Homo sapiens: one gene and its partner. The protein of the gene in region 1 purifies or fractionates together with the protein of each later gene. This does not show direct contact. Each region holds a gene or a part of one and is shown in the gene's direction. Other genes may lie near its edges. The genes, in order: ATOX1 and GSTO1.

Region 1 (3,819 bases):
CTGCCTGGCCTCCAACCCACTGGGGAACCCAGGCAATCCTTTCTTTCCCTGGACCCAGATGCTGCCTCTGAGAATGCGGCCCTTGGATGAAAGCAGAATCACCTGGGGTAATGAGTAGACATAACAGATTCCCCAGCCCAGACCTGCTGACCAGAACCTGTAGTTTTTGCAAGCTGTAGGTGACTCTAGTGCAGAAAATAATTTTGTGGTTCATAAGTGGGCCCACCAGATCAGCATTGCTCAGAGTATGGGGGCCCATCCCTGTCAGAGTTACTGGTGGCCCTGAGACAAAGCTCATAGCTCAAGAATCAGTGTTTTGAAGGTAGGACTGGGAAAAAGCATTTTAAACTAGATCTCCAGGTGATTCTATTTACTATGTGCCAGACACTGCTAAAGGATTTATAGGGATGATTCCATTGAATACAACTTGTGAGGTAGAAACTCTTAGCTACTCTATAGTTGAAGAGACGGGCTCAGAAACAGGCTTCTGATGAGTCTGATGCCAACCAGGTCCTGCCCAGTCTCTCTGTCTTCTGTCTTGACCCTGAGTGGGCCTGTCTGCTGGCACTGTGTGGGGGTCACTCTACAGGGCTCGGGTCATGGTCCCCCTGTGTTTGTTTCAGAAGCACGAGTTCTCTGTGGACATGACCTGTGGAGGCTGTGCTGAAGCTGTCTCTCGGGTCCTCAATAAGCTTGGAGGTGAGTGAGTGGCCCTGAGTTGGGTGCACTTATGCCATGTTCAGATGCATGCAGATGTTGCAGGAGAGACTTAGGGTTAAGCTGATCATAACAGTAAAACTAAAATATATTGAGTACTTAGCACGTGCCAACTACTCTTGTTATTTTCTTAGTGGCTTATGTGAATCACATCATTTAATCCTCACCACGGCCATTTCAGATAGTTTTTTTTTTACTAGCTCCATGTTAAACAGGAGACAGCTGAAGTTCAGAAACATTAAATAACTTATCTGGGATCACATGGTCAGTAAATGGCAGAGCTGGGATTTAGCCAAATTAACTAGTACTGCCAGGAGTAGCTCTGGAGCCATGGCAGTACTAGTTCATATGTTGGTCATCTCCAGTGTGTACTGCATGACACATCTGAGTGTCATTTTCTATTGAATTTTTTTTTTTTTTTTTTTTTTTGAGACAGAGTTTCGCTCTTCTTGCTCAGCCTGGAGTGCAATGGTGCAATCTCGGCTTGTTGCAACCTCCGCCTCCCAGGTTCAAGCAATTCTCTTGCCTCAGCCTTCCAAGTAGCTGGGATTACAGGCATGCACCACCACGCCTGGCTCATTTTGTATTTTCAGTACAGACGGGGTTTCTCCATGTTGGTCAGGCTGGTCTCGAACCCCTGACCTCAGGTGATCTGCCCGCCTCGGCCTCCCAAAGTGCTGGGATTACAGGCGCGAGCCACCCTACGCAGCCTCTATTAAGGTTTTTTAAATGGGGCTGGGCACGGTGGCTCACACCTGTGATCCCAGCATTTCGGAAGGCTGAGGCGGGCAGATTGCCTGAGCTCAGGAGTTCCCGAGACCAGCCTGGGCAACATGGTAAAATGCCATCTCTACAAAAAATACCAAAAAAATTAGCCAGGCATGGTGTTACATGCCTGTACTCACAGCTAATTTAGGGGGCTGAGGTGGGAAGATCGCTTGAGCCTGGGAGGTTAAGGCCACAGTGAGCCTAGATCGTGCCACTGCACTGCAGTGGGGGCAACAGAGCAAGACCCTGTCTCCAAAAAAAAAAAAAAAAAAAGAAAGAAAAAAAGGAAAGATTTAAAAAAAGGTAAAAATTTTTAAAATTTTGTCTTTTTCTGTTTCTTTACTTCAAAAAAAAAAATTTAAATTAATTTTGAATCACTCACATGCAGATTTTTTTTTTTTTTTTTTTGAGATGAAGTCTCACTCTGTTTGTTGCCCAGGCTGGAGTGCAGTGGCATGATCTCAGCTCATTGCAGCCTCTGCCTCCTGGGTTCAGGCGATTTCCGGTGAATTTTTGTACTTTTCATAGATATGGATTTCACCATGTTGGCCAGGCTGGTCTTGAACTCTTGACCTCAAGTAATCCGCCTGCTTTGGTCTCCCAAAGTGCTAGGGTTACAGGCATGAGCCACCGCACCTGGCCACATGCAGATATTCTTAAAGCACCTCTTTTGAACAATCAGTCTCATCCAGCCTTGTCATTTTACAGCTGGGGAAACTGAGGCCCAGAGAGGACTGGGATCTGGTCCTGGGACTCAGTGAGGTAATAACTGAGTTGTGATCAGAGTTTTGGCAATGCCAGTGCTCAGTCAGCCTTCTAAGATTTTTTCTTTTCTTTTTCTTCCACATGAACTATCACACAATCTTCTAAAATTTTCTTTTTTAAAACCCTAAATAATAATGACATTAAGTTTTCAAATGGCTTCCACATGGACGTGATCTCATTAGCAGTCCTCTGAGCTGTACTTTCCATCTTTGGAATGGGGATGTCGATGCCAGTGTCCAGGAGGTTAAGTGACTTGCCCGTAGTCCCGCAGCAAGTCAGTGGCTGGCCTCTAGCCCTGTAAACTGGGATCTTAATCTGAAAGAAACTGAAACAGTGGAAAGAACCTAGCTGCTGACTTGTCATGTGACTGTGGGCCCTTCTTTCTCGGGCCTGGGTTTCCCCAGCTGTGGTATGGGAATGTATATCTTGTATGTCTGTATCAGCTTTTGCTGTTGATGCTTTTTTTTTTCTTTTTCTTTTTTTTTTTTTTTGGAGATGGAGTTTGCTCTTTCACCCAGGCTAGAGTGGAGTGAAGTGGCATGATCTCTGCTCACTGCAACCTGCTCCACTCTGCCCCGGGTTCAAGCGATTCTCCTGCCTCAGCCTCCCGAGTAGCTGGGATTATAGGTGCCCGCCACCACGCCTGGCTAATTTTTTTTTTTTTTCTGAGGCAGAATTTCGCTCTTGTTGCCCAGGCTAGAGTGCAATGGCGTGATCTCAGCCCACCGCAACCTCCACCTCCCAGGTTCAAGCGATTCTCCTGCCTCAGCCTCCTGAGTATCTGGGATTACAGGCTCAGGCCACCATGCCCGGCTAATTTTGTATTTTTAGTAGAGACGGGGTTTCTCTATCTTGGCCAGGCTGGTCTCAAACTCCTGACCTTAGGTGACCTGCCCACCTTGGTCCCCCAAAGTGCTGGGATTACAGGCGTGAGCCACCGTGCCCAGCCTGTTGATGCTTTAAAAATGAAACTGTACAGGAGCTCCTCAAATACAAAGCAGCAGGCTCTGGATGAAGTGGGGATGGGCCTAATTTCGTTTGACAGCTCAAAGACATCTACCCATCCCAGGAACTTCATCCAGGCTGGAGTGCAGTGGCGCGGTCTTGGCTCACTGCAGCCTCAACTTCCCAGGCTCAAGCCATCCTCCCACCTCAGCCTCCTGAGTAGCTGGGACTACAGGACCACACCCGGCTATTTTTTTGTTTTTGTTTTTGTTTTTTGTAGAGACAGGGTCTTGCTTTGTTATGCAGGCTGGGAAACCATATGTTTTGTTTGTTTGTTTGTTTGTTTTGAGAGGGAGTCTCACTCTGTCTCCCAGGCTGGAGTGCAGTGGCATGATCTTGGCTCACTGCAACCTCTGCCTCCCAGGTTCAAGTGATTCTCCTGCCCCAGCCTCCCGAGAAGCTGGGATTACAGGCACATGCCACACACTGAGCTAATTTTTGTATTTTTAGTAGAGATGGGGTTTCACCACGTTAGCCAGGCTGGTCTTGAACTTCTGACCTCAAGTGATCCACTCGCCTCAGCCTCCCAAAGTGCTGGGATTACAGACATGAGCCACCACGCCT
Region 2 (3,819 bases), on another chromosome or scaffold:
AAGGATTCCTTAATATCTTCATAAAAACCAAGAAACTTTTTACTCAAATTAGCAAAATAAATTGAATTTTATGTTGGTTCTCATATAGTGGATAGTGGACACAATTCAATTAGTTGCCTCATATGATTTATAACTAAGATACCTCTTAGCCATAAATGGAGTATCTTATTGACAATTTTGAAGCATTTCCACAGATTTATTCATTCATTTATATGAAATATTTCAAAACAAAAATATTTACTGAGTCCTTATTTGAAACTTTTTATTTTCTTCAGAGCATTTATATCTATATAGCATTTTGCTCATTTACATGTTTGTTTATTACTATGAACAGATACACAAGATCCCACCTTTCGTGAAGCTTACATTCTAGGAAGATAACAAACTTGTAAATAAGTGAGCAAAGTAATTTCAGATACATATTATCAGTTCAATGAAGAAAGTAAAACATGATAATCATGTAATAGAAGCTGCTCAGCAACTTCAGAGCTATGGTCAGGGAGGGCCTGGGGATGTGTGTTTGACCTGGGAAGACCTGGGAAAAGGCAGGCAGAGGAGGCAGAGGACCATCAAGTGCAAAGACTCTAAGGTGGAAACACATTTGGCAAATTCAAGGAATATAAAAACCGCCAACGTGTAAAAGAAAACATAGGGGAAAAGCTTCATGACACTGGCCTTGGCAATGATTTCCTGGACATGACACCAAAGACCAGGCAACAAGACCAAAAATAAACACATGAGACTACAGCAAACAAGCTTCCACACAGCAAAGGAAACGATTAACAGAGCAAAAAGGCAACCTATGGAATAGGAGAAAGTACTTGCAAACCACATACCTGGTAAGGGGTTAATCTCCAAAATACATAAGGAATCTCTACAACTCAACAACAAAAAAACCTGATTTTAACATGGGCTAAGATCTTACATAGACACTTCTCAGGCTGGGCATGGTAGCTCACGCCTATAACCCCGAGGCAGACAGTTCACTTGAGCCCAGGAGTTCAAGACCAGCCTTGGCAACATGGCAGAATCCTGTCTCTACAAAGAAATTAGCTGGGTGTGATGGTGCACGCCTGTGGTCCCAACTACTCGGGAGGTAGGAGGATCGCTTTAGCCCAGGAGGTCGAGGCTGCAGTGAGCTGCGATCAAGCCACTGTACTCCAGTCTGGGAGACAGAGTGTCAAAAAAAATTAAAAATTAAAAAAATAGACATTTCTTCAAAGAGGATATAAAAATGGGCAACACATATATGAAAAAGTTCTTATCACTAATCATCAGGAAAATGCAAATCAAAATCACATAATAACCTCACACTTGTCAAGATGACTATAATGAAAAAAGACAAGTGTTAGCAAGGATGTGTAGAAATCAGAACCTTTGCACACTGTTGGCGGGAATGTAAAATGGTACAGCTGCTATGGAAAACAGTATAGATGTTCTTCAAAAAATTAAAACTAGAACTACCATGTGATTCAGCAATCTCACTACTGGGTATATATCCAAATTAAATGAAATCAAGTTCTCAAAGAGATATTAGCACTCTCACGTAGACTGCAGCACTGTTCACAACAGCATAATGTCAATGTCCATCAGCAGATGAATGGATAAAGAAAATGTGTTAATGCTATTCCACCTAAAAAGGAAGGAAATTCTGCAATATGTGACAACATGGATGGACATTGCGGACATTATGCTAAGTAAAATAAGCCAGACACAGAAAGACAAATACTGCATGATTGTTCTTAAAAGGTGTATCAAAAGTAGTCAGATTCATAAAATCAAAAACTAGAATGGAAGGAATCTAGGCAGACTCCTAAATTTGGGGTCTGATCAGCTAAGTGGATGGCAAAGCCAGTGAGAATTTATCCAAAAGCACAAAAGTTGTTTCCTTCTCTTCATAGTCTCCTATGTGTCTTTCAGGCATGAAGTCATCAATATCAACCTGAAAAATAAGCCTGAGTGGTTCTTTAAGAAAAATCCCTTTGGTCTGGTGCCAGTTCTGGAAAACAGTCAGGGTCAGCTGATCTACGAGTCTGCCATCACCTGTGAGTACCTGGATGAAGCATACCCAGGGAAGAAGCTGTTGCCGGATGACCCCTATGAGAAAGCTTGCCAGAAGATGATCTTAGAGTTGTTTTCTAAGGTTTGTGCATAAGAAATTTCAGCTCCTATTTGAAAAACCTGTTTTTTAAAGCGAAATCAGTGCTGCCATTTATGGTTCAGTGATTTGGGAGAGAAAAACAAAACAGGAATATGCTTGTCAGCTCTGAGTGTCCTGCAAGTCCTTTCACGATCCAGTTCCTGTTTACCTCCAAAATTATCCCTTTTCACTCGTCTCCTGACACTTTATATATGCCAGCCATACTAAACTTTTCTCAGAATTCCCAAATTCGCCCCTTTCTCTTTCAATTCTTGCTGTCAGATTCTTCCCACTTCTCACTGTGCCTGGTTATCTCCACGTCATTTTTCACATGTCTGCTCCGACACTGCTGCCTTTTCAGGAGCTTGGCAGGCTGGTTAGTGCTCTAGCTTCTGAGTTCCCATCCGTGTGAACTTTTGCCTGCCTTCTTGCCTGTGTACTGCACTGGGGCTGTGAGCTCCTTGAGGGTGAGGGCTGTGTTTTGATCACTGTTAGTTCACTGCCTAGTTTTATGACTGGCTCTGCTACTTTCTTGTGACTCTGAGCAAGTTACTTATTACTTTGCCTCTCCGTTCATCATTGGTAAAATGGATATAGTAATTGTTCCCACCTCATAAGATAAAAATCAGTTAATATAAAACACCCAGAACAGAGTCTGACACATGGGAACTACTTAATTCTTGTCCTTATAGCCATAGCATCAAGCAGTGAGCATCTACTTTGTGTTGGCAATAACTCAGATGACTGAATAAATAGCAATCCTGTAGAAGAACTGTTTGTACCTTACTTAGCATCAACACTGTGGATTAGTTCAAACAATTAGTATTAACAAAGAAATGACTAAAAGATGTGTGTTTAGACACCAAGAATAGCATGTCTGGTTATATGCCTATAACATTGTCACCTTGGTAGTACGGTCAGTATATAAAGGATTATCTTTAGAGAAAAAGATGGTTAAAGAAATGCCCTAAGAGAGAGTTATAGGGAAAACATTCTGTTTTAGGAGACATTATAAAGGGAAGCCAATGGGACAGGAAGAGTGAGTCATCTGCTTAGTAAGATGAGGGTGAAAGAATAGTAGAGGCGGCTGCTGTGAAAGATAATGTAAAGGGAACATGACATTTTCAAGAACGATGTGGGAGAGTTTTACAAAGTAGTAACAAGTTAAAGGCATGCAGCTTCAAGACACGAAGTCATCAATACCAACCAAAAAAAATAAGCCTAAGTGGTTCTTAAAGAAAAATCTCTTTGGTCTGGTGCCAGTTCTGGAAAACTTTTTTTAGTATGGCTGGAATATAAAGTGTCAGGAGAAGAGATAAAAGGGGTAACTTTGGAGAGGTAAACAGGAACTGGATCGTGAAAGGACTTGTAGGACACGTCAGAGAAAATGAGCTTTAAAAGTAAAGCTTTTAGACATGAAGCTTTACTTTCATGCATAAAGCTACTACTTTAAAAAGTAGTCACAAGAGATTCATTGTACTATCTAGAAAGAAAATGAGATTTAAAAGTAATGCTGAAGATGCCCACCTTTACTTCCCTGCTTGGGTTTTAAAGGAGAGGTGGCTTTATGTACATATGACCCTGCTCTCCTGGCCACAGCCCATCAGAACAGAAATGTACCCCACCCCACACACCTGGGCCAGTTATCTTCTCTCCTGGGAACTTGGAAATGAGACACA

What was found.
Region 2: the proteins of ATOX1 (region 1) and GSTO1 fractionate together in Homo sapiens (co-fractionation; one large-scale study listed by BioGRID). This does not show direct contact.

What each region holds. Positions count from the first base shown.
Region 1 is NC_000005.10:151,748,584-151,752,402, reverse strand, and holds part of ATOX1 (copper transport protein ATOX1), read left to right. Parts: intron 1-623; coding exon 624-699; intron 700-3,819. UniProt on the Homo sapiens protein: Binds and deliver cytosolic copper to the copper ATPase proteins. May be important in cellular antioxidant defense.
Region 2 is NC_000010.11:104,257,656-104,261,474, forward strand, and holds part of GSTO1 (glutathione S-transferase omega-1), read left to right. Parts: intron 1-1,920; coding exon 1,921-2,143; intron 2,144-3,819. UniProt on the Homo sapiens protein: Exhibits glutathione-dependent thiol transferase and dehydroascorbate reductase activities. Has S-(phenacyl)glutathione reductase activity. Also has glutathione S-transferase activity.